Linked DNA regions of Homo sapiens: regions 2, 3, 4 and 5 are each linked to region 1. Evidence: fine-mapped expression QTL. A gene starts in region 1. Each other region holds a variant in brackets. All regions are shown on one strand. Distances are between the middles of the regions.

Region 1 (5,108 bases):
CAAATAACTAAAGCATGGCCAGCTGATGCCCAGCCAACTGAGAAACCCAACCCTCTGAGACCAGCACACCCCTTTCAAGCATGTTCCTCCCTCCCCTTCTTTGTATTTATACTGATGCAAGTTTGCTGGCTGTCCTAACTTATTTCTGTGCCTCAGTTCTCCCATATGTAAGATCACAAAGGGGGTAAAGATGCAAGATATTTCCTGTGCACATCTTCAGATGAATTTCTTGTTAGTGTGTGTGTGTTTGCTCACACATATGCGTGAAAGAAGAGTACATACACAGATCTCCTCAAAAAGGAGGCAGCAAGCCCGTTCAAGAATGGGACTGAATACACCTGATGAGTGGTTTACTTTCTGTCTGCAAACATCTACTGATCATCTGTTAGGTGCAGGCCATGATCACAACAAAGACGAATAAGACACTACACTAGCCAGGGAGAGTCTCAAAAACAACTAAACTCAAATTAAATTCATTCTACTCCAGTCATGGGTACAAAGCTAAGGAGTGACAAATCCCTCTTGGAGTTAGGGGAGTCAGGAAAAAGCTCTTAGCAGAATGTGTGCCTCTCGGCCGGGCGCAGCGGCTCACGCCTGTAATCCCAGCACTTTGGGAGGCGAAGGCAGGCAGATCACCTGAGGTCGGGAGTTCGAGACCAGTCTGACCAACATGGTGAAACTCCATCTCTACTAAAAATACAAAATTAGCCAGGCGTGGTGGTGCAGGCCTGTAATCCCCGCTACTCGGGAGGCTGAGGAAGGAGAATCACTTGAACCGGGAAGGTGGAGGTTGCAGTGTGCCAAGATCGCGCCATGGCACTCCAGCCTAGGCAACGAGGGTGAACCAGGTCCAGGAAGAAGGTGCAAAGACAGCATTCCAGGTAAAAGAAACAGCTTGAACAAAAAGTGTGTAGGGGAACCGCAAGCGGTCTTGAGTGCTGAGGGTACAATCATCCTTGGGGAAGTACTAGAAGAAAGAATGATAAACAGAGGCCAGTTTGTTAAAAACACTCAAAATTAAAGCTAGGAGTTTGGACTTGTGGCAGGAATGAAATCCTTAGACCTGTGCTGTCCAATATGGTAGCCACCAGGCACATGCAGCCACTGAGCACTTGAAATGTGGATAGTCTGAATTGAGATGTGCCATAAGTGTAAAATATGCACCAAATTTCAAAGGCTAGAAAAAAAGAATGTAAAATATCTTATTATTTTATATTGATTACATGCTAAAATAACCATATTTGGGATATACTGGATTTTAAAAATATATCACTAATTTCATCTGTTTCTTTTTACTTTTAGAAATCACATATGTGACTTAAATATTTCTTTTCTTTTTCTTTCCTCTCACTCAGCGTCCTGTGATTCCAAAGAAATGAGTCTCTGCTGTTTTTGGGCAGCAGATATCCTAGAATGGACTCTGACCTAAGCATCAAAATTAATCATCATAACGTTATCATTTTATGGCCCCTTCTTCCTATATCTGGTAGCTTTTAAATGATGACCATGTAGATAATCTTTATTGTCCCTCTTTCAGCAGACGGTATTTTCTTATGCTACAGTATGACTGCTAATAATACCTACACATGTTAGAACCATTCTGACTCCTCAAGAATCTCATTTAACTCTTATTATCAGTGAATTTATCATCATCCCCTATTTTACATAAGGAAATGGGGTTAGAAAGACCAAATAACATTTTTTCAACATCAAAACACTAGCTTGAGATCAAGCCCAGACTTGGATCTGTCGTCTGAATTCCAAGCTTTTTGTTATTTATTGATATGTTTTGTTGTTTTCATGCAATAATGCAAATATTAGCCCAAACATTTTGTTAGTAGTACCAACTGTAAGTCACCTTATCTTCATACTTTGTCTTTATGTAAACCTAAATTAGATCTGTTTTTGATACTGAGGGAAAAACAAGGGAATCTAACACTAACCAGCCCGTAGTGTGTGGTCAACACTTTCGTTACTTTAGTATACATCACCCCAATTGTTTGTCTTCACCACACACTTTGGAGTTAGGTAGTAGTATCTATTTTTACAAATAAGAAAACCCAGGCACAAAGGGGTTGATTAGCAATTATCTTTTGAAAAGCCTGTAGTTGCTCATCTGAAGAAGTGACGGACCACCTCTTATTTAGTGGACAGACAGTAACTAGTTGAGAAGACAGGGGATTTTGTTGGCGGAAAAAAAATTTTATCAAAAGTCGTCTTCTATCAGGGAGTTTTATGAGAAACCCTAGCTCCTCAGTTCCACAGTGGGTAACTGTAATTCATTCTAGGTCTGCGATATTTCCTGCCTATCCATTTTGTTAACTCTTCAATGCATTCCACAAATACCTAAGTATTCTTTAATAATGGTGGGTTTTTTTTTTTTTTTGCATCTATGAAGTTTTTTCAAATTCTTTTTAAGTGACAAAACTTGTACATGTGTATCGCTCAATATTTCTAGTCGACAGCACTGCTTTCGAGAATGTAAACCGTGCACTCCCAGGAAAATGCAGACACAGCACGCCTCTTTGGGACCGCGGTTTATACTTTCGAAGTGCTCGGAGCCCTTCCTCCAGACCGTTCTCCCACACCCCGCTCCAGGGTCTCTCCCGGAGTTACAAGCCTCGCTGTAGGCCCCGGGAACCCAAAGCGGTGTCAGAGAAGTGGGGTCCCCTACGAGGGACCAGGAGCTCCGGGCGGGCAGCAGCTGCGGAAGAGCCGCGCGAGGCTTCCCAGAACCCGGCAGGGGCGGGAAGACGCAGGAGTGGGGAGGCGGAACCGGGACCCCGCAGAGCCCGGGTCCCTGCGCCCCACAAGCCTTGGCTTCCCTGCTAGGGCCGGGCAAGGCCGGGTGCAGGGCGCGGCTCCAGGGAGGAAGCTCCGGGGCGAGCCCAAGACGCCTCCCCGAGCGCGGCTCCAGGACCCCGTCGACCCGGAGCGCTGTCCTGTCGGGCCGAGTCGCGGGCCTGGGCACGGAACTCACGCTCACTCCGAGCTCCCGACGTGCACACGGCTCCCATCCGTTGTCTTCCGAGCGTCAGGCCGCCCCTACCCGTGCTTTCTGCTCTGCAGACCCTCTTCCTAGACCTCCGTCCTTTGTCCCATCGCTGCCTTCCCCTCAAGCTCAGGGCCAAGCTGTCCGCCAACCTCGGCTCCTCCGGGCAGCCCTCGCCCGGGGTGCGCCCCGGGGCAGGACCCCCAGCCCACGCCCAGGGCCCGCCCCTGCCCTCCAGCCCTACGCCTTGACCCGCTTTCCTGCGTCTCTCAGCCTACCTGACCTTGTCTTTACCTCTGTGGGCAGCTCCCTTGTGATCTGCTTAGTTCCCACCCCCCTTTAAGAATTCAATAGAGAAGCCAGACGCAAAACTACAGATATCGTATGAGTCCAGTTTTGTGAAGTGCCTAGAATAGTCAAAATTCACAGAGACAGAAGCAGTGGTCGCCAGGAATGGGGAAGCAAGGCGGAGTTGGGCAGCTCGTGTTCAATGGGTAGAGTTTCAGGCTGGGGTGATGGAAGGGTGCTGGAAATGAGTGGTAGTGATGGCGGCACAACGGTGTGAATCTACTTAATCCCACTGAACTGTATGCTGAAAAATGGTTTAGACGGTGAATTTTAGGTTATGTATGTTTTACCACAATTTTTAAAAAGCTAGTGAAAAGCTGGTAAAAAGAAAGAAAAGAGGCTTTTTTAAAAAGTTAAATATATAAAAAGAGCATCATCAGTCCAAAGTCCAGCAGTTGTCCCTCCTGGAATCCGTTGGCTTGCCTCCGGCATTTTTGGCCCTTGCCTTTTAGGGTTGCCAGATTAAAAGACAGGATGCCCAGCTAGTTTGAATTTTAGATAAACAACGAATAATTTCGTAGCATAAATATGTCCCAAGCTTAGTTTGGGACATACTTATGCTAAAAAACATTATTGGTTGTTTATCTGAGATTCAGAATTAAGCATTTTATATTTTATTTGCTGCCTCTGGCCACCCTACTCTCTTCCTAACACTCTCTCCCTCTCCCAGTTTTGTCCGCCTTCCCTGCCTCCTCTTCTGGGGGAGTTAGATCGAGTTGTAACAAGAACATGCCACTGTCTCGCTGGCTGCAGCGTGTGGTCCCCTTACCAGAGGTAAAGAAGAGATGGATCTCCACTCATGTTGTAGACAGAATGTTTATGTCCTCTCCAAATGCTTATGTTGAAACCCTAACCCCTAATGTGATGGTATGTGGAGATGGGCCTTTGGTAGGTAATTACGGTTAGATGAGGTCATGGGGTGGGGCCCTCATTATAGATCTGGTAAGAAAAGAGAGCATTGTCTCTGTGTCTCCCTCTCTCTCTCTCTCTCTCTCTCTCTCTCATTTCTCTCTATCTCATTTCTCTCTCTCTCTCTATCTCATTTTTCTCTCTCTCTCTTTCTCTCCTCTGTCTTTTCCCACCAAGTGAGGATGCGAAGAGAAGGTGGCTGTCTGCAAACCAGGAAGAGAGCCCTCACCAGGAACCTGTCCAGCTGCCACCTTGAACTTGGACTTCCAAGCCTCCAGAACTGTGAGGGATAAATGTATGATTTTAAAGTCGCCCAGTGTGTGGTATTTTGTTTTGACTAATACAACCTGAAAACATTTTCCCCTCACTCCACCTGAGCAATATCTGAGTGGCTTAAGGTACTCAGGACACAACAAAGGAGAAATGTCCCATGCACAACGTGCACCCATGCCTGGGTAAAGCAGCCTGGCACAGAGGGAAGCACACAGGCTCAGGGATCTGCTATTCATTCTTTGTGTGACCCTGGGCAAGCCATGAATGGAGCTTCAGTCACCCCATTTGTAATGGGATTTAATTGTGCTTGCCCTGCCTCCTTTTGAGGGCTGTAGAGAAAAGATGTCAAAGTATTTTGTAATCTGGCTGGGCGTGGTGGCTCATGCCTGTAATCCTAGCACTTTGGTAGGCTGACGCGAGAGGACTGCTTGAGCCCAAGAGTTTGAGATCAGCCTGGGCAATATTGTGAGATTCCATCTCTACAAAAATAAAATAAAATAGCCAGTCATGGTGTCACACACCTGTAGTCCCAGCTACATGGGAGGCTGAGGCGGGAGGATCACTTGAGCTTGGGAGATCGAGGCTG
Region 2 (5,108 bases), 180 kb after region 1:
GGCATGTGCCACCATGCCAGGTTAATTTTGTATTTTTAGTAGAGACGGAGTTTCTCCATGTTGGTCAGGCTCGTCTCGAACTCCTGACCTCAGGTGATCTGCCCGCCTCGGCCTCCCAAAGTGCTGGGATTACAGACATGAGTCACCGTGCCTGGCCTCAATGATAATTTTTAAAGGAAAGTTTGCTAATCTTTGTTCTTTTCATATTGAAAGATTTTTTATGACAAAACAAGGAATGACGTGAAGAAAATTAGGAGCTACAAATTCTAATATCTAAAGTATGGCTGGTTTTAAATACCTGCACTCAAATCTTTCTGTATGTTTCACCAATTGTAAGACAACAATAAAGATATCTACTTGCTGGTTTGATTTTTCAAACCAAGAAACAAATACAAAACAGAGTTGAAAGATATTCATAAAAAGGCACAACTAAAATAAGAGAATAAAAAGGTAAAAACTGTCATTGTCTCCTGAAAGACAAGTGAAACTTGGCCATTCCCATTCAAGTTCACTTATTCATTCATTTATTCAATAAATACTTTTTGAGCACCTACTATATGCCAGGGCTCTAGACAGTAGAGATAGAGCACAAATTAACCAAACAAAAACCTCTGCATTGATGGAACTTTTATTCTAGAAGCATAAGAGATAATAAACAAATAAATAAAATATATAGTATGTCAGATGGTCATAACAGCTATGGAGAAAAACAAAGTTGGAAAAGGAGTTAGAAAGTGTCAGGACAAGGGAAGGGGGCACTGTCATGTTAACTAGATGTTCTTGGAAGGTGACATTTGAACTAAATCTGGGGAGGTCCTGCGTGGTTTTGGGGAAGAAGGAAGGGACATGAAAATGATCACACTTTTTTTTCCTCTCTAGTCCTGTCCTCAGGATCTTGCATTCCACTGCGCTGTGTTTATTGGTAATGACCCACACTTTTAATTAATTAAATGATGCTGTCAGACTGAAAGAGACACTCCATCCAATAGAGATGGAGCATGGTAGCTTGACTCAGACCCTGAGGGATGGGCAGAGACTGGATGTGGTGCGAGGCGAGGACAGCAGGAAGGATAACGTAAGCAGGAAGAGGGCCTGGGCAGACAGGAGCACCGCCTGCTTTAGGGACAAGCTGGAGATCTTCCCTGCTCCAACAGAAAGGTAAAGAATAAAGCTGGTTTTGTGAAGTGGGCATACGAGCTAGCTAGAAAAGGTCACGCTTGGTCATAGAGGCTACAGGAAGTCACCAAAGCTAAATGAGCAGAGAAGAAATATGGTGAAACAGGTATTTTAGTAAACTTCATCTAGTGATAGAAACAGATGAGATAGGAGAAAGAAGAGGCTACAGGCAGTGAAGCCATTTAAAATCTTATTTTTGTTATCTAGGTATTAATTTATAAGGGCTGGACCGGAATGAAAGCCACTGTGAGAACAGTGATATTTACAAAGAAGTGATATTTATAAGAAATAAATGGCAGACCTTGGTAGGTGATTAGATCTGAAGGACACAGGAGGAAAAAAAGTTAGAGCTGACGTATTTCTAAAGTTCAGAGAGAGGCAAGCAGATGGAGTCATTCCAAGATACAGGCCTCTGTGATCCAAAGACCGTGTGACTTACTCGGGATTACACAATTAGCAAAAAGCTGAAGCCAGAACCCAGATTTCCTGCTTTTCCCTCCACTGGATGACTCCAAAGTTTTAAACCTGGAAAATGAGGAAGTAGTGTGCCACCACCGACCCCCCAAAAAATGTGTGATTATGGAGAGATAGCTAGCTTCCAGTTAAGTAGGGTAGATGGAGAATTTTAGTTTTATACTGGAGTTTGAAGATGTTAGAGTACAGAAATCTGGGAAATAGGCAAAACTTTAGGATAGGAAATGGCTCTGCCCTTACTAGTTTGTAATCTTGGTCAAGTCACTTAACTTCTCTAAGCCTCAGTTTCTCCAGTTGCAAAGAGGTATGTGTGGGGGGGTTAATGTTATTATTTAATGGTTGCTATGAATTAATTTTTATAAAGGACTTGGAGCAGTACCCGGTACAAGATAAGTGTTATTTAGTTGTTTGTTCAATAAAATAGGTAAGATGCAATGTAGAGAAAGAGGTCGGCTTTCTGGGGAGGTAAGAAGAAGATGTGGGGAAAACTAGAGCATTTAGGATAATTGATGTATGGTCTGAGATAGAAGTCAAGGGAAGAGTTGTATAAAGGTGAAAAACAAAATTGAATGACACAAAGATACGGAGAAAGAGGAAGGCCAAGAGAGACCATCAGATGCGGAAAGAAGGAGGCCTCCCAGAGTTCTCTCTGGACAGAGGGCTGATGGAAAACGAAAGAGGCAGTGAGAATAAGGAAGAAAGGCACTTGGATGGCTATTTGCCAGCAATATGTGAATGTATCTAACAGCAGATCAAACTTGAAAACAGGCATTTGACTAAATTAATGGATAACACATTCATGGTGAATTGTTAAAAGAGTGTTAAGGAAATCTGGAGACAATTCTAACCATCAAGAAATTGACAGCACAGAGGATAATAATGCTGGCCTAACCTTCATGGTTAGGTACCAAATACTAAATCTATTGCAGTATGATCTGAGGCAAGATGGAAGGTTTTATGATTCCCACATTCACCCAAAAAGTTTCCTTGATTGCAAATGCTGAAAATCTGAGATGCTTTCATTACATTTTATTTATGTTTGTGTGAAACCAGTATATTTTTGTTCTATATGAAAATGTATGTCATAAACATTCAGAAATTCAGAGGAGTTCATCCGAAAGGCTGACATGGTACACCGTGGACCGAAGCCTCTGGGGCAAAATGTTTTCTATGTATCATTCGTTGAGTCT[C/G]AGTTTGAAGAAGTACTTACACATTTGTTCTCTTTGTATTTTGCTATCCAAATGTTTGCTCATAAATTCCAATGTAGTAAATAAGGACAGTTTTGAAAGTCAGAAACTCTAAATTTCAAAAAAGCTTTATTTTTCTTTGGGTTTGTTTTCGTATGTAGTCTATTGTAGTCTATGCAGTGAACTTTGTCTTATATGCTTAAAAGGGCACTGATATTTGGTGGGCATTGGGGGGCGGGGAGTTACCTAACCAGTACTGAAAAGTTACTAAACTACCTGACACAGCTGAAACCAGGAAGGAAGGCTGTATCAGGAAGAGACTGAATATAGTCCTTAGGTGGATTTTAGTATTAGGTGACAAATTAGGTTGTATTGGACTGGCACTGTCCAATAGGAATATAATGAGGCTCACAAATGTGAGCCACATGTGTAATTTTACATTTTTAAAAATGCAAACCACATTTTTAAAAGGGGAAAACAAACAGGTGAAATTAACTTTAATAATATATTTTTTATATCCAAAGTATCATTTAACATGCAATCAACATGAAAATCATTAACAAGACATTTTACACGATGTTTTCTGCGCTGTCTTTAAATTCCAGTGTACATTTTACACATCCAGCAGTGGGCAATTCAGACTAACCATAATGCCGAGTGGTCAATAGCCACATGTGGCTAGTGGCTATCATATTAAATAGTGCAGGTTTGAACCAAAAATACTTCGCTTTGGTTGTTTTTTTTTTTTTCTTTTAGACGGAGACTTGCTCTGTCGCCAGGCTGGAGTGCAGTGGCAGATCTCGGTTCACTGCAAGCTCCGCCTCCCGGGTTCAAGTGATTCCCCTGCCTCAGCCTCCCAAGTAGCTGGGACTAAGGCGTGCGCCACCACGCCCGGCTAATTTTTTGTATTTTAGTAGAGACGGGGTTTCACCACGTTGGCCAGGATGGTCTCGATCTCCTGACCTCGTGATGCGCCCGCCTCGGCCTCCCAAAGTGCTGGGATCACAGGCGTGAGCCACCGCGCCCGGCCTGCTTTGGTATTTTTTAAGAGCAAGTTGGTAAATGGAGGCATTATATGGAGAGTGCTCGAGTATATATAGCACAGGTTAGAGCAGCACGCCGGCACCTTGAAGCGAACACGGGCTCCTCCACTCCCGTCAACACTGGGACTTTTCTGTTTTTATCTTGAGTTTGAGGCCGGGCTTCTTAGCAGACCTCAGTCTGAAACTGAAATAAACCTGGACGCAGCGTACCCTTGAATCGCAAGAACGCCGCCTTCAGTGTTTCTCCGGAGAAAAGCATTCACGCCAGGTTGTGACGAAAACATTTTTTGAGAACTCATAATGTTTATTCCTTGGATGAATCCATTATATTTATTTAGTGTCTCAGGAAGGATGATGGGCATATTGCTTGCAAAAGTTGATTTGAATCCTGATAGATTCCACTAACTTTTTTGTCTTTTTTTTTGGCTGCCTTCTTCGAGAATGGTGTCAACCCTTAATAACACCTAGCCTTACGAATCCCTGGGGTGATTCCCGACCTCGCCAGCTTTGTGGGGCTCCCCCGACTTGCCTACATTCCCTGGCAGCCTCGCAGCTTCGGGCAGATGGAGCTTCCGGCCTGCGCGCAGTGGTCGCCTGTCGTCCGCCCGCGCTCCCTTCGGCCGGAGGTCGGCGGCCCCGGGCAGAGCGCGCCGTCTGCCCCAGTATCGGGAGGCCAGTTCCGCGCTGGGCCCACGCCCTCCTCGCCCGCCGCTGCCTGCGCGCCAGGCCGGGTGGCGGAGCCGGCCGTCGCTGCTCCGAGCTCGGACCCTCCCCCGGGGTGATTTCGGCTTAGAAGGTGGAAATGCGGAAGTTTCCAGCGCCGACCGACAGACGAGGTTTGCGCTTGGCTGGGCATGTTCCGCGGCTACTCTGCGGCGCGCCAGGCCCCCGCTTTCCGCACCCCGCGACCCTAGAAGCCACCGAACCGCCGGCGGGCCATGGCCACTCTGCCGAGCGCAGAGCGCCGCGCGTTCGCGCTCAAGATCAACAGGTAAGACGCCCCCCGCGGCGCGCAGGTTGCGGCCGGACAGCCCAGCGCTGGTGTGAAGCGGAGCTTCGCTGCAGGGGCCGAGGCCGGACGAGTCCATTCGCGTCCGCGGCGGGGCGCGCCTGAGACCTGGGGCGCCCGGTTCCCGAGGCTGCGGCGGTGGAGCCGCTGGACGCGCGGCGGCTCCTGCGCTGGGCCCGGCGAGGTCCTCCCCAAGAATCTCGGTGCTCCTGGATGTCC
Region 3 (5,108 bases), 140 kb after region 1:
GTGCAAGGGAAAGCAGCAAATGCTGATATAGAAGCTGTAGTAAACTACCTAGAAGATGTAGCTAACATCATTCATGAAAGTAGCTACACTAAGCAACAGACTTATTTTTTATTTATTTATTTATTTATTTTGAGATGGAGTCTCGCTCTGTCACCCAGGCTGGAGTGCAATGTGCAATCTCAGCTCACTGCCACCTCCGTCTCCCGGGTTCAAGCCATTCTCCTACCTCAGCCTCCCAAGTAACTGGGATTACAGGCTCCCACCACCAAGCCAGGCTAATTTTTGGTATTTTTAGCTGAGATGGGGTTTCACTATGTTGGCCAGGCTGGTCTTGAACTCCTGAACTCGTGAACTGCCCACCTCGGCCTCCCAAAGTGCTGAGATTACAGGCATGAGCCACCGAGCCCGGCCAGCAACAGATTTTTAATGGAGATGAAATGGCCTCCTTTTGGAAGAAGATGCCATTTAGGACTTTCATAGCTATAGAGAAGTCAATGCCTGGCTTCAAAGATTCAAAGGACAGGCTGACTCTCTTGTTAGAGGCTAAAGCAGCTGGTGACTTCAAGTTGAAGCCAATAATCATTTACTATCCTAAAAATTCTAGGGCCATTAAGAATTATGCTAAATCTCCTCTGCCTGTTTTCTATAAATAATAAAGCCTAGATGACAGCACATCTGTTTACAGCACGGTTTAGTTTAAGCCCACCATTGAGATCTACTGCTTAGAAAAGAAAAGATTCCTTCAAAATATTATTGCTCATTGACAACGCACCTGATCACCCAAGAGCTGTGATGGAGATGTACAAGATTAATGTTGTTTTCATGCCTGCTAACACAACATCCATTCTGCAGCCCACTGATCAAGGAGTAACTTTGACTTTTAAGTCTTATTTAAGAAATATATTTCATAAGGCTATAGCTACCATAGACAGTGATTCCTCTGATGGATCTGGGCAAAGTAAATTGAAAACCTTCTGGAAAGGATTCATCATTCTAGATGCCATTAAGAACATTTGTGATTCATGGGAGATCAAAGTATCAACATGAATAGGAGTTTGAAAGATGATTCCAGCCCTCACAGATGACTTTGAGGGATTCCAGACTTCAATGGAGGAAATAACTGCCGATGTGGTGGAAACAGTAAGAGAACTAGAATTAGAAGGGGAGTCTGAAGATGTGACTCAATTCCTGCAATCTCATAAGAAAACTTTAACTAATGAGAAGTTGTTTCTTATGGACGGGAAAAGAACGTGGTTTCTTGAGATGGAATCTACTCCTGGTGAAGATGCTATGAACACTGTCAAAATGACAACAAAGGATTTAAAATATGACAGAAGCTTAATTGATAAAGCAGGGTTTGAGAGGACTGACTCCAATTTTGAAAGAAGTCATACTGTGGGTAAAATGCTATCAAATAGCATCATGTGCTATAGAGACATCTTTTATGAAAGGGAGAGTCAACTAATGCAGCAAACTTCATTATTATCTTATGAAATTGCGATAGCCACCCCAACCTTCAGTAACTACTACCCTGATTGGTCAGCACCCATCAACATCGTGGCAAGACCCTCTACCAGCAAAAAGACTATGACTTGCTGAAAGCTGAGATGATTGTTAGCATTTTTTAGCAATAAATATTTTTAATTAAGGTATGTATGTTTTTTAGACAATTCTATTACACATTTTATAGACTACAGTATAGTATAAACACAGCTTTTTTTTTTTTTTTTTTTTTTTTTTAAGAAATGGGGTCTCATGCTGTCATCCAGGCTGGAGTGCAGTGGTGCAATCATGACTCACTGCAGCCTCAAACTCCTGAGCTCAAGTGATCCTCCCAAGTAGCTGGGACTACAGGCCTGTGACATCACACCCGGCCAAAACGCATAACTTTTATATGCAATGGGAAACAAAAAAATGTGTGTGACTCACTCTATTGTGATATTCAGTTTACTGCAGTGATATGGAACTAAGCCCACAATATCCCTGCGGTATGGCTGTACAGTATAAGAATCACCTGAAGGGCTTATTAAAAACAGCTTGCTTGACCCCCTCCCTTAGAGATTCCGATTCAGTAGATCTGGGTTGGTCAAGAATTTGCCTTTCTAACAAGCTCCCAGCTGAGGCTGAGGCTGCCATTCAACATACTACCAAGTAGCACTGGCATAGAGAGATCCCTGGAATAAAATGTACCTACTTGTGTGTGTGTGTGTATGAATGTGTGTGTGTGTGTGTGTGTGCGCATGTGCATGTGCGTGTGTGTGTGTGTGTACAGTCTTGCTCTGTTGCCTGGGCTGGAGTGCAGTGGCGTGATCTCGGCTCACCGCAACCTCCGCCTCCCAGCTTTCAAGCGATTCTCCTGCCTTAGCCTCCTGAGTAGCTGGGATTATGGGGTGCGCCACATCGCCTGGCTAGTTTTTGAATTTTCAGTAGAGACTGGATTTCACCATGTTGGCTAGGCTGGTCTTGAACTCCTGGCCTCAAGGGATCCACCTGCCTCAGCCTCCCAAAGTGCTGGGATTACAGGCATGAGCCACCATGCCCAGCCCCTACTTGTATATCACAAAAGTGAGATGATTACTTTTCAACTTTCTTCTTTGTATTTTTTAGGTATTTAAATTTTTTTACAATGAATGTTCCATCTTTACCCAAACAATAAAATCTTTATTGTAAAGAAAGTTAGAAGCAAGAAACATTAACATTTTTTATAACTACAATTTGTATAAAAGCTTTCTCTGTGATCTTTAGTTTTTCTTTCTTCC[T/A]CTGAAAAGCTGAATCGTGTTTAATTAAACTCTCAAAAGTATCAAGTTTTTGTCTATAAAATGGCAAAACTGGCTATGATGAAATAAACTGATATTTGCTATTTCTAATAAAAGCATACAATATATTTTTCTTTCTTACCAGATTCAAATATTTAACACCAACATATTAGTCCAAGTCCTATCATCAGTCAGATTTATCAGAAAGGTATGAAAACCCATGCCTACTATAAGGACCAAAATAGCCTAATTCAATACTACTTTGAAAACATGGGGATGATGTTATTATGTAATTGTTTTAAGTACAATAACCACTGATCACATTTGAACTCTCAGGATACTTCAATATTTCTTTTGGACAACTATGACCTGTTGAGTAAATTACCCCCAAATACTTTAATATAGTTTTACAAATCGCCCCAATGCCAGAGACCCAGATCAAAAAAAAAAATAATGGTATGGGTCAGATTCACAGAATAAGCACTAACTTTTATGCAAAATGAAAATAAAGATTTTATCTAAAAGTTATTTGGGGAAAATAAGCAGACTTTATCAAGAATTAGAGCTTGGTAAGAAGGTAACAGAAACCCATTGTTAGAAACAGGTTGACTCTGTGTAGCTTTCCATAGTAGAGTTCAGAGTTTCCTGTCATGATTCCCTTATCAATGCAGTGTAATAACTACTTACACAGCACTTACATTGTATTAGGTATTATAAGTAATCTACAGATGATTTAAAGTATATGGGAGGATGTGCATAGCTTATAGGCAAATACTACACCATTTTATGTAAGGGACTTGAACATTAATAGATTTTGGTATCCTCAGAGATTCCGGAACTAATACCCCATGGATGCCAAGGGACAACTGTACTTAGAGGTAGAACGTCTCTGCTCTTCCTACATGTCCTTATTTTTAACAACTTCTGTTCTTACAAATAATCCTAAGTCAATCAATAAAACTTCAAATTCTATTAACAGCTTAAAAGTACCAAGAAATACTCTGTTCATTCATTCAACTGCCAAAGAAAATGACAACCGAGTACTTTTCCTCTTTTAAACCAAAAAAAGTTTTTGGTTTAATACTAACAAAAGCTTTAATCCTCATTTTAGATATTCCTCTAATACATCTATTTACAATATATCACAGAACTATATTCTGGTTATTAATAATCTCACTTCTTACCAGGGTCTGCTAATCCAGTGGTCTCTAACAGTATGTAATCAAATTTCCCCTTCTTTTGCATCAAATTCTCAATAGCTCTAAGGCCACTGTCCCTGGAGAATACCAAAACATAATTTACAGTTAATTACCTAAATATTTTGAAGTGATTATTATAAACACTTTAAAATATATTCAACAACCCGAGACAAAAGTACCCTTGGGAATGTGAAAATTTAACTCACTTCTAACCTTCTAACAAAATGTCCGTCCCATATTTACCAGTGAGAAAACAATAGATGCATATATATAATAGGTAAAAAGAAATCATATACATAATACTTTATCAAAATTAAAAGCAGAGGAAACTTTATCTGACCAAGTATCTTTTTATAGCTTTATGAAATTTTTAAAAACCAACATACAAAATAATGATAAAATGTATTAACTATAGTAGTTTAATATAATAGCTAAAGAGACACTGATATTAAACACCATATAATTCTATTTTACATTAGGATGCAAGGTTTTAATTTCCTTTTTTCTTATTTTATCAAAAGTGAAGGAAAATCCTTAATAGATTATATTTTGGTTGTTCAAGAAAGTCTGTTATAATTTTATCCTTGCCAAAACATTTGACACAAAGTCAAATACCTAAGGGAGTAAATGATGCCGAAGAGATTTAATTCACTAGAATACACAAAATTAACAGTACAAGTAGTCATTTTTATAATTCATTCAACAAATATTTGAGTGCTACTATGTGTTGGGTAACTCTTCTAGGGTCTATGGTAGACTAGTGAACACTGTCCTTGAAAACTTAACTAGTAGAACATAACGTAAGGTTTTTCTCTTTTTTGATAGTCATTTATTTTTTTTATAAGATTGAACACTTAGAAGTATGACCAATGACAGATTAAATTCAGAATAATCATTTTTTACATATGAGACTTTCATGCACTAGAGATTAAATAAGCCCTGACATCAAAAGCAATAAAAACTCAATAAAAGGACCAAAACATTAGAGCAGATAGAAAAGACAGCAAGAAACACTTTAAGAAAATGCTTCCTAATAAGTTTATTTTCTATTTGTTTGAAAATACAATGAAGCAAACTGTGTAAATTCAGTTAAATTACTCAAGAAAATTAAAGCTGGAAATATAATCAATAAACATTTCTAGTAAACCATGTA
Region 4 (5,108 bases), 77 kb after region 1:
CCAAAATTACTTTCTGACCTAAAACAACAAAAATACTGGACAAAATATATGAAACTATGGCCCTCAAGCAACAAAGGGAATCAATCACTGGAATCAAGCATCAAAGGGCAGTGATCCTCAAGAGATGAGAAACAAATGAGGCTAGCCCCACAATTGACCTCCCAAACACCTTAGAAAACTTTCCAAGCCACAGCACAGGAAGAAAGAATGCAGATGGAGCTCAGAGATCTTCCTGAGTTGAGAAGACAGAACTGTGAGTCTGGGAAGGCCAATGTGGCTAGAATTCATAGGGCAGAATATTGAGGAGGAGAGGGCTGTACAGAGACAGAGCTCTGGAAATCTGAAGATAATACTTACCCTCCTTGACTGTTTAACAGCGTAGTGATCAGAGTATGCAGGTATGAAAATCGCCTGAGAGGCTGGACCCGGTGGCTCGCACCTGCAATCCCAGCACTTTGGGAGGCTGAGGTGGGTGGATCACAAGGTCAGGAGATAGAGACCATCCTGGCAAACATGGTGAAACCCCATCTCTACTAAAAATACAAAACTTAGCTGGGTGTGGTGACACACGCCTCTAGAGTCCCAGCTACTCAGGAGGCTGAGGCAGGAGAATCTCTTGAACCTGGGAGGCAGTGGTTGCAGTCACCCGAGATCCAGCAAAGCATGGGCAACAGAGCAAGACTCAGTCTCCAAAAAAAAAAAGAAAGAAAAAAGAAAACTGCCTGAGAATGGAAAAAGAATCATCCACAAAGAGAGCCAGCCCCTCTTCCCCCCTGGCTCTTAGGACCCCCATCGCAAGGGGGTGAGACACCCCCCTTGATGCGGGGAGTGCGTGCCAGCCCCTCTTCCCTCCCTGGTTTTTAGGATCCGCGGTGGACTCACAGCCTGTTTACGGTATTCGGAGTGATATCATCTCCCCCTCTGGAAATTATAAACTATTTCACAGATGGGGGTACACCCTCGGTGTGCAGAGGGTGTACAGCCGTCTGTTTTGGGAGTAATATCATCGTCTTCCTCCCTGAATATTAACAACAGCATCACAGCTGTGTTTCTACTGCAGGTGTGATTGGGCGTCACCTCCTCCTCTCCCACGTGGAAATTAGAACCGATATCAGTGGGGGCGTGCACACCTTCTGTGATATTTAAAGTGACATCATCCTCTTCCCTCCAGGATCATGAGAACAATATCCCTGGGGGGGTACACTTTCTGCGATATTGGGAGTAATATCGACCTCTCGGCCTCTGAATATTAGGAACAATATCACAGGGTGGGTGTACACCTCCTGCTCTGTTATGGGGAGTAATATCTATCTATTACGGGGAGTAATATCATCCTCTCCCTTTCAGGATGTTAATAACAATATCACAGGGTGGGTGATCACAGCCTGCGATACTGGGATTATTATCATCCTCTCCCCCTCGGGATACCAGGAACAATATCACAGAAGAGGTGTACACTCCCTGCGATTTTGGAAGTAATATCCTACGCTTCTTCCATGAATATTAGGAGCAATATCACCGGGTGGCTGTACATTCATTGCTATGTTGGGAGTCATGTCATACTCTACTCCCTGGCTATTAGGATCAGTGTCACAGGGTGAGTGTACACCTACTGAGATATTAAAACTAATATCATGCTCTCCATCCCTGGATATTAGGAACAATATCACAGGTAGGTGTACACCCCCTGCGGTATTAGGAGAAATAATACGATTAATTATTAAGCATCAATCTTAATAATATTATTAATTGTTAAACTTCAGTCTTAATAATTATCAATGGTAATATTAATTAATAGTATAACGTTATTAATCATTAATGATTATTTTAAATGTACGATTATGCATGATTAAAATTATCTGTATTAATGTCATTTTTCAATAATATTAGTTATTAATCTTAATATTAATTATTGTTTTATTACCAACATCACTTATGACTGATTTATGTAACATTGATTAATAATATCATTATTTTATTATTAATAGTGATATTGTTATTATTAATAGTAATTGTTAATATTTTTAATCCGTATTAACTTTTACTATCTCTATTGCAATTATTAATATCGATGATTACTATTAATTATTAATATATTTATTACTATTAATAATTAATATAACTGTTCCCGATATCTGTGGGGGAGAGGATATTACTCCCGATGTCGCTGAAAGTGTACACCCCTCTATGATGTTTCTCCTAATTGCCAGGGCGTAGAGGATGACATGATTGAAGATATCGCTGCGGGTGTACCTCCGTTCAGTCATCTTGTTCCTAATGTCCTGGGTGGGAGCGGATGATATGACTCCCAATGTCGCAGGGGGCGTAGACCTCCCCCGTGATACTGTCCCTAACGTCCAAAGGTGGAGAGGATGATATTTCTTCCAGTTTCGCAGGGGATGTACACCACCCCTGAGATATGGATCCTAATATCCAGGGGGCGAGAGGATGATGTTAGTCTC[A/T]CTATTGCAGGAGGTGTACACTCCCTAGGGATATTGTTCCTAATATCCAGGGACGGAGAGGAAGATCTCACTCCCAATACAGCAGGGGGTGGACACCCTTCTGTGACACTGTCCCTAATAGCCAGCGGGGGAGGGGAAGATATTACCCCCAATATCGCAGGGGGTGTACACCCACCCCGGGATATTGTTCCTTATATCGAGAGGGGGATAGGGTGATATTGTTCCCAATATCGCAGGGGCTGTACACCCCTCCTGTGATATTGTTCTTAATATCCTAGGAAAGAGAGGATGATACTACACGCAATATCTCAGGGGGTGAACACCCACCTCCTTCAGATATTGTTCTTAATGTACTCCACCTCCCCCGACCAGGGATGTTGTTCCTCATATCCAGGGGAAGAGAGGCTAACATTACGCCCAATATCGCAGGGGGTGTACACACCCTCTGTGATGTTGTTCCTAGTATCCAAAGGTAGAGACGATGATATTACTGGCCATATCGCAGGGGGTGTACACCCCTCTTGTGATACTGTTCTTAATATTTAGAGAGGGAGACAATGATAGTACTGTCCATATTACTGGGGTCACAGCAGCCCCGTGACGTTGTTTTTAATATTCAGTTTGGGAGAGGATGATAATAATTTCAATATAACAGGGGACACCCCCGCCCCGTGATGTTGTCCCTAATGTCCAAGGGAAGAGAAATGATATGACTCACAATATGTCAAGGGGTGTACATCCCCTGTATAATATTCTTCCTAATATCCAGGGGGGATTAGAATGATATTACTCCCAGTATCACAGGGGGTGTACGCGACCCCTTTTATATTGTTTCTAATATCTAGGGAGGGAGAGGATGATATTACTCCCAATATTGTAGGGGTGTACACCCCTCCCGTGACATTGTTTTTAATATTTAGGTAGGGAGTGGATGATGTTACTCTCAATATCTCAGAGGGTTTACACTCTTCCTGGGATACGGTTTCCAATATTAAGTGGGAGAGAGGATGATATTATTCCCAGTATCGCAGGGGGTGTACATGTCCTGTTATTTTGTTCCTAATATCCAGGTTGGGAGAGGATGATATTACTGCCTATATCGTAGGAGTTGTACACCCCATCAGTGATATTATTCCTCATATTCAGGGGAAAAGAGAATGACATCACTCCCAATAGCGCAGGAGGTGTACACACCCCTTTGATATTGTTCCTAATACGCAGTGGAGGAGACGATGATATTACTGGCCATATCGCGAGGGGTGTACACCTCCTCTGTGATATTGTTTTTAATATCCAGGGGTTAGAGGATGACATTACTCCCATGATCGTAGTGGGTGTACACCAATTCTGTTTTATTGTTCTTAATATCCAGGGAGGGAGAGGATGATATTACTGTCACTATCGCAAGGGGTAGACACTCCTTCTTTGATATGGTTCCTAATATCCAGGGGGAAGAGTATGATATTAATCCCAAAATCGCTGTGGGCATACACCCCTTTTTGATATGGTTCCTAATACACCGGGGGAGAGTCTATGATATTACTGCCCATATCACAGGGTGTGTACACCAGAACTGCTATATTGTTTCTTATTTCCAGCAATGAAGAAGTTGCTATTACTCCCAAAATGGAATGGGCTGTAAACCCCCCATAAGATATTGTTCCTAATATCCAGGGGGAAAAGGATGATATTACTTTCAATGTTGCGGCAGGTGTATAATCTGCCTGTTATATTGTTCCTAACATCTGGGGTGGGGGCGGCGGGGTGAGAACGATATTACTCGCAATGTCTCAGAGGGTGTACACTGCCCCTGTGATATTGTTCTAAATATCCACTGGGGTAGAAAATCATATTACTCCCAATATCGCAGGTGGTGTAAACGCCCCCCGATATTTTTTCTAATATCCAGGTGAGGTAGGATGATATTACTCCCAATATCACAAGCGGTGTACACACCTTCTTTGATATTTTTCCTACTATTTACTTGTGGAGAGGATGATATTACTCCCAGTATCAAAAGAAGTGTACAAGCCCCCTGTGATATTGTTCCTAATATCCAGGTTAAAAGAGGATGATATTACCCCCAATATCGCAGGGGGTTGGCTGTACACTCCGCCTGTGATATTATTTCTAATATCCAGGGGAAGAGAGAATAATATTACTCCCAATATCGCAGGGGCTGTACGCACCTTGTGATATCGTTCCTAATATCAATGAGGGGAGGAGATGATATTACCCCAAATATCAGAAGAGGTGTACACCTTTCCTGTGATATTGTTCCTAATCTCCCTTTTGGGAGAGGATGATATTACTCACAATATCGCAGGGGTTATACACTTCCCCTGTGATATTGTTCCTAATATCCAAGTTGGGAGAGGATGATCTTACTCCCAATATCGCTGGGGGTATACACCCCTTCTGTGATATTGTTCCTAACATCCACAGGGGAAGAGATTAATATTACTCCCAATATCCCAGGGGGTGCACGTCCCCACTGTTATATTGTCCCTAATATCAAGCGGTGGAGAAAATGATATTACTCCCAATAGCGCCGTGTGTATACACCGCTCCTGTGATATTGTCCCTAGTATCCAGGGGCTAAAGATAGATATTACTCCCAATATCCAGGGGATAGAGGTTGATATT
Region 5 (5,108 bases), 57 kb after region 1:
ACAGGATCCCAAGGCAGAAGAATTTTTCTTAGTACAGAACAAAATGAAAAGTCTCCCATGTCTACTTCTATCCACACAGACCCGGCAACCATCCGATTTCTCAATTTTTTCCCCACCTTCCCGCCTTTCTATTCCACAAAACCGCCATTGTCATCATGGCCCAACCCCAATGAGCCGCTGGGCACACCTCCCAGACGGGGTCGTGGCCGGGCAGAGGGGCTCCTCACCTCCCGGACGGGGCGGCTGCTGGGCGGAGACGCTCCTCACTTCCTATAGGGGGTGGCGGCCGGGCAGAGGCTGCAATCTCGGCACTTTGGGACGCCAAGGCAGGCGGCTGGGAGGTGCAGGTTGTAGCGAGCCGAGATCACACCACTGCACTCCAGCCTGGGCCCCATTGAGCACTGAGTGAACGAGACTCCGTCTGCAATCCCGGCACCTTGGGAGGCCGAGGCTGGCGGATCACTCGCGGTTAGGAGCTGGAGACCAGCCCGGCCAACACAGCAAAACCCCGTCTCCACCAAAAAAAAACGAAAACCAGTCAGGCGTGGCGGCGCGCGCCTGCAATCGCAGGCACTCGGCAGGCTGAGGCAGGAGAATCAGGCAGGGAGGTTGCAGTGAGCCGAGATGGCAGCAGTACCGTCCAGCTTTGGCTCGGCATCAGAGGGAGACCCCTACTCTGCTATTCTAACCATGAATCCCTCTGGGGCCCCTTCCTCCTACGGCGCTTGTGAGGATGAAATGAAATAAGCTCTATGAAGTGCCCAACAGTGACCAACACTGAATAAAATACAGCCACCATAGGTGGCCTTCCCTTATGTTCACCAAACTCCTGATAAGTTATTCGGTGATGTTTTAATCTTAATATTTTATGTAGATTATACATTCATCTGATTCAAAATGCAAAAGGTACAAAAGCGTATACAGTTAAAAGCTTCCCAACCCACTACCATTTATCTCCCTGGAGGCAACTGTTTCCAGATTTTTGAATATCCTTAAAGAATATCATATGTATGGAAAAGAAAGATTATATATTTATATGCATCTGTGTATGCATTTTCCTATGAGAGGCTCACAAAGTCTCCTTGAAGAGATATCATTATTACAAATACCCCTCAATTTACAATGGGGTTATATTCCAATAAACTTATGAAAATATTGTAAGCTGAAAATGCATTTAATACACTTAACCTACTAAACATCATAGCTTAGCTCGGCCTACCTTAAACACTCACATTAACCTACAGTTAGGCAAAATCATCTAACAGAAAGCCCATTTTATAATAAAGTGGGTTTTGAATATCTCATGTAATATAATGAATACTGTACTGAAAGTGGAAAACAGAATGGTTGTATGGGTACTCAAAGTACAGCTTCTGCTGAATGTGTATTGCTTTCAAACTATCTTAAAGTTGAAAAATCATAAGTCAAAATATTGTAAGTCAGGGATTGTTTGTACTTCCACTTTACATGATGAAATTGAGCCTTGAAAAGATTAAGTGACTCGCCCAAGGTCACACTGGCAGTTAAACAGTGAAACTTGGATCCAAATTGTTCAGTCAGTACATGTATTGTCTTGAAATCTGAAAAAGAGGAAGAGGAACTAAACTACTAAATTGAAGGAATATTTTAGGCATAGAAGAAGCAGATGCCTTCATGTCCAAGTGATTGTGAAAAGCCCACTTGCCCCAAAATATGTCTCCTGGTCATATGAAATTCCACCATTTCAGATTTTTACCTGGGGATTTAGAGTAATCTGCTGTTTTCCTAGAGCTCCCCTAAAATAGAAATAGAAATTTTGGAAGGCTAAATATATGCTAACATTGGAAAACTCATTTTCTCCCCTTCGTAAGGCAAGGTACTGAAGGAGGGGGCCCTACAGGCTGTGCAGGGACATCCTGGAGGCATGGGGAGAAGAAACTGAAAGGCAAGGTTGTATGGAACAAAGAATACCGATCTCAGGATTCTCTCTTGAACCTGCCCTAACTTTGTTCAAATAGACTTAGCCACTGACCTGCTGTCAAAAGACCGCAGCCAATCTGACTTGTTTTCAACATAATGATGAATATTGATTTGGTCCCTTCATCCAACATTCTCAGCTGGATCTTTTTTTGACCAAGGATATACATTACTAGGCGAGTACAGGCAGTTAATTCTTCCACAGGGGACTTTGGAGTTTCTGAGTTAACCAGAATCACCCACCTTAACATCTGCCAGTTTATACCCCAAGTCCTGACCAGTGCCCCCTACCTGCTATGCCTCATGTTTTCAATATAGCATAAGATCTGAAATGAAAGATGAAACATCATAGCCAATATCACAGAAATACAAAGGATCCTAAGAAACTCCTATGTATAATTACACACTAACCAATTGGATCATCTAGAAGAAATGGATAAATTCCCAGACACATAAAACCTACCAAGATTGACTCATGAAGAAATTAAAAAATCTGAACAGACTAATAGCAAGCAAGGAGGTTGAATCAGTAAGAAAATGTCTCCCATCAATGAAAAACCCAAAACCAGATGGCTTCCCAGATTAATTCTACCAAATATTTTAAGAAGAACTAATACCAGTCCTTCTCAAACTCTTCCAAAAAGCTGAAGTGGAGGGAATACTTCCAAACTCATCTTACAGGGCCAGCATTACCCTGATTCCAAAGCCAGACAAGAACACTACAAGAAAGGAAAATGACAGGCCAATATCCTTGATCTACATAGATGCAAAAATCCTCAACAAAATCCTAGCAAACCAAATTCAATAGCACATTGAAAGAATCATTCACCACGATCATGTCATGGTTCAACATAAGCAAATCAATACATATAATATACCATATTAGAAAAATAAAGGATAGAAACTATATGGCCATCT[C/T]AATAGATATAGAAAAAGCTTTTGACAAAATTCGAAACCCTTTCATGGTGAAAAAAAAACACCCAACAGATCACGTATTGAGGGACTGTATCCCAACAAAATAAAGGCCATATATGACAAACCCATAGCTAACACCATAATCAATGGTGAAAAGTTGAAACTTTTCCTCTACCATCAGGAACAAGACAAGGATGCCCACAGACACCACTTCTCAGGGTAATTAGGCAATAGAAAGAAATAAAAGGCATCCTAATAGGAAAGGAAGAAGTGAAATTGTCTCTACTGACAGCATGATCTTGTTATATATAGAAAACCCTACAAACTTCACTGAAAAAAGGTTAGAACTCAACACAAAGAAGGGAACAATAGACACTGGGGGGACTCCAAAGGTGGGAGGGAAGGATGGTGGGAGCAAGAGTTGAAAAACTGCCTATCGATTACTATGCTCACTGCTTGGGTGGTGGGATCATTAGAAGCCCAAACCTCAGCACCATGCAATATACCTGTGTAAGAAACCTGTACATCTACCCTCCTGACTCTAAAATGAAACATACAATATTTAGAAAACAAAAACAAATAAAATTTGAAAACTGTTAGAACTGAACTGATAGGTGAAATCAGTAAAGTTGTAGGATACAAAATCAACATATAGAGCCTTGAACACAGCAACATCCAGCTGTCTGACATGAAAGTCTCAGGGGCAAGAAAACCTCTATATGAACTCAGAAACAATGAGCTAAGTTGTGTTTATGTCTGAAAGGATGTTAAGAACTGCATTCATGTTACATCAGAGCCAACAGAAAGAACCAACAGGAAACCTGTACCCAACAAACAGAAATGACAAGATGAAGGGAAAGCAGAGGTAAGGGCTTACCTTAGAAAGGGCAAGTGATTAGCTCAATATGCAATACAATGTTTGCTCCTGAGCCAAAAATTTGTACAATAATTTGGATATTACTTGCACAACCAGAAAAATCAGCCACTCATTAGGAAAATGTGTTTCTGTATAAGTCTTAGGACTCAGCTATCTATAATAACATGAAAAGACAATATTTTCATCCAAAATGAGTATTTTTGTTTGTCTTGGCTTGTTATTCTAACGTCAACAGCCTCTAAATAAACTGTTGAAGTACATGATATAACCACCTCTTTCTCCATCTTTCCCATTGCTCCCATAGGGTTTCAGTTGTGCAATTTCACCATTAGCAAAGCTTTTTGCTGAAATCTGGCTTTTCAAAGGGAGAGTATCCAGAAACAGAAGATGCTGCTCTGAGAGGCTCTTCCTAATAGAACTGCTGCTTCAGTTTAGCTTGAAAAAGCCCACACCCAGTTCCTAATGACAAACATCTGAACACCGGGTCTTCCCACGAGCAAGACCATGCTATGCCTCCTGCTCGCTCTGTTCTATAAGCAACCCACAGATTGCTCCCTGTGAAGAGGAGCCTGCCAGGGGAGCAGCATTCCACCAGACCCTGATTTAGCAAGATATTTCCGTATCATTCCCCCAACCAGCTGGAAGTCCTCCACTGCTCTTGTGTAAAAATCTAACTCATCTCGCTGAATTTCCTGATTTAAAAGTCTAATTCATTTCACCAAAAGTGTGACAGAAGGAAACCAAGTACACCATCTCTCTCTTACCAAACCGAAGCTATTGCATGTGCATTCTGGGGGAAAAAATGGTCCAAATATGTTATGGAGGGGGTGCCAGCCCAGTGTCATCCTCTTACTATTGCCATAGGATCTTGGCTGATGGCATCAGAGGAAAAACAAGTTTATCGATTACTTTCAACCATTAAGCTCACTCCTCCATGAAAAATAAGTCACAAGTCCAATGTCTCTTATTAAAATAAGCACTGCAAAATACAAAGGAGTCACAGTTTTAAAATGGGACACACGTTCTCTAAGCGGTGAACCACGTTAGAGGTGCACTGTTTACATTGTATAAAGTCCCCTGGAGCCAGGGTTAGGAAGCGCATCTGTTCTTTGGTGTTCTGGGATGAAGGAGAAAGGAAAATGTGCTGCCAGAAGTGAGTGGGAAGGAGCCCATGAGATAAAGGAAGTAAATCCATTTGCTGATTGCAATAATAATGGTAATACACGAAGCTATACATACATACATACATACATACATGCATGCATGCATGCAAATTTTCACATTTTTTAAAAAAAAGAACTTAAGGCTTCCACACATGTAATCAGCCCTTATGAACTCTCCTGATTAGCTGCAAGGAAAA

Which allele goes with the higher level. Positions count from the first base shown, and alleles are read on the strand shown. Sizes are in standard deviations (SD) of each study's normalised expression. Not every link is listed here.
As copies of A replace T in region 4, the expression in lymphoblastoid cells of the gene that starts at base 3,125 in region 1 goes up (large effect, 0.85 SD a copy in TwinsUK).

Evidence for each region.
Region 2: its variant is fine-mapped to the expression of WASHC1 in whole blood (TOPMed, PIP above 0.99).
Region 3: its variant is fine-mapped to the expression of WASHC1 in whole blood (INTERVAL, PIP above 0.99).
Region 4: its variant is fine-mapped to the expression of WASHC1 in lymphoblastoid cells (TwinsUK, PIP 0.95). The same link has a PIP of 0.9 or more in skin.
Region 5: its variant is fine-mapped to the expression of WASHC1 in whole blood (TOPMed, PIP above 0.99). The same link has a PIP of 0.9 or more in blood mononuclear cells.

Annotation. Positions count from the first base shown.
Region 1 is chr9:26,332-31,439 of GRCh38, forward strand. It overlaps WASHC1 (WASH complex subunit 1), which reads right to left and starts at 3,125. Exons shown (of 11, transcript NM_001378090.1): 1 at 2,981-3,125. MIR1302-9HG (MIR1302-9 host gene) reads left to right here and starts at 3,328. Exons shown (of 3, transcript NR_197460.1): 1 at 3,328-3,551; 2 at 4,011-4,114; 3 at 4,427-4,560. MIR1302-9 (microRNA 1302-9) reads left to right here and starts at 3,813; the gene lies at 3,813-3,950.
Region 2 is chr9:210,159-215,266 of GRCh38, forward strand. It overlaps DOCK8 (dedicator of cytokinesis 8), which reads left to right and starts at 4,707. Exons shown (of 48, transcript NM_203447.4): 1 at 4,707-4,871. The coding sequence starts at 4,819. DOCK8-AS1 (DOCK8 antisense RNA 1) reads right to left here. Exons shown (of 1, transcript NR_160804.1): 1 at 3,299-5,108. RefSeq lists silencers at 4,462-4,711, 4,722-4,771, 4,822-4,871, 5,042-5,108. The variant C/G (reference allele first, on the strand shown) is at 2,841.
Region 3 is chr9:168,141-173,248 of GRCh38, forward strand. ZNG1A (Zn regulated GTPase metalloprotein activator 1A) reads right to left here. Exons shown (of 15, transcript NM_018491.5): 4 at 3,941-4,032. Among named protein-coding and RNA genes, the nearest start is that of ZNG1A, 8.4 kb to the right of the region's middle. The variant T/A (reference allele first, on the strand shown) is at 2,760.
Region 4 is chr9:103,332-108,439 of GRCh38, forward strand. It overlaps LINC01388 (long intergenic non-protein coding RNA 1388), which reads right to left. Exons shown (of 8, transcript NR_187612.1): 6 at 358-463. Among named protein-coding and RNA genes, the nearest start is that of LINC01388, 7.9 kb to the right of the region's middle. The variant A/T (reference allele first, on the strand shown) is at 2,463.
Region 5 is chr9:83,232-88,339 of GRCh38, forward strand. All of the region lies in intron 2 of PGM5P3-AS1 (PGM5P3 antisense RNA 1), which reads left to right. Among named protein-coding and RNA genes, the nearest start is that of PGM5P3-AS1, 13 kb to the left of the region's middle. RefSeq lists an enhancer at 1-153. The variant C/T (reference allele first, on the strand shown) is at 2,875.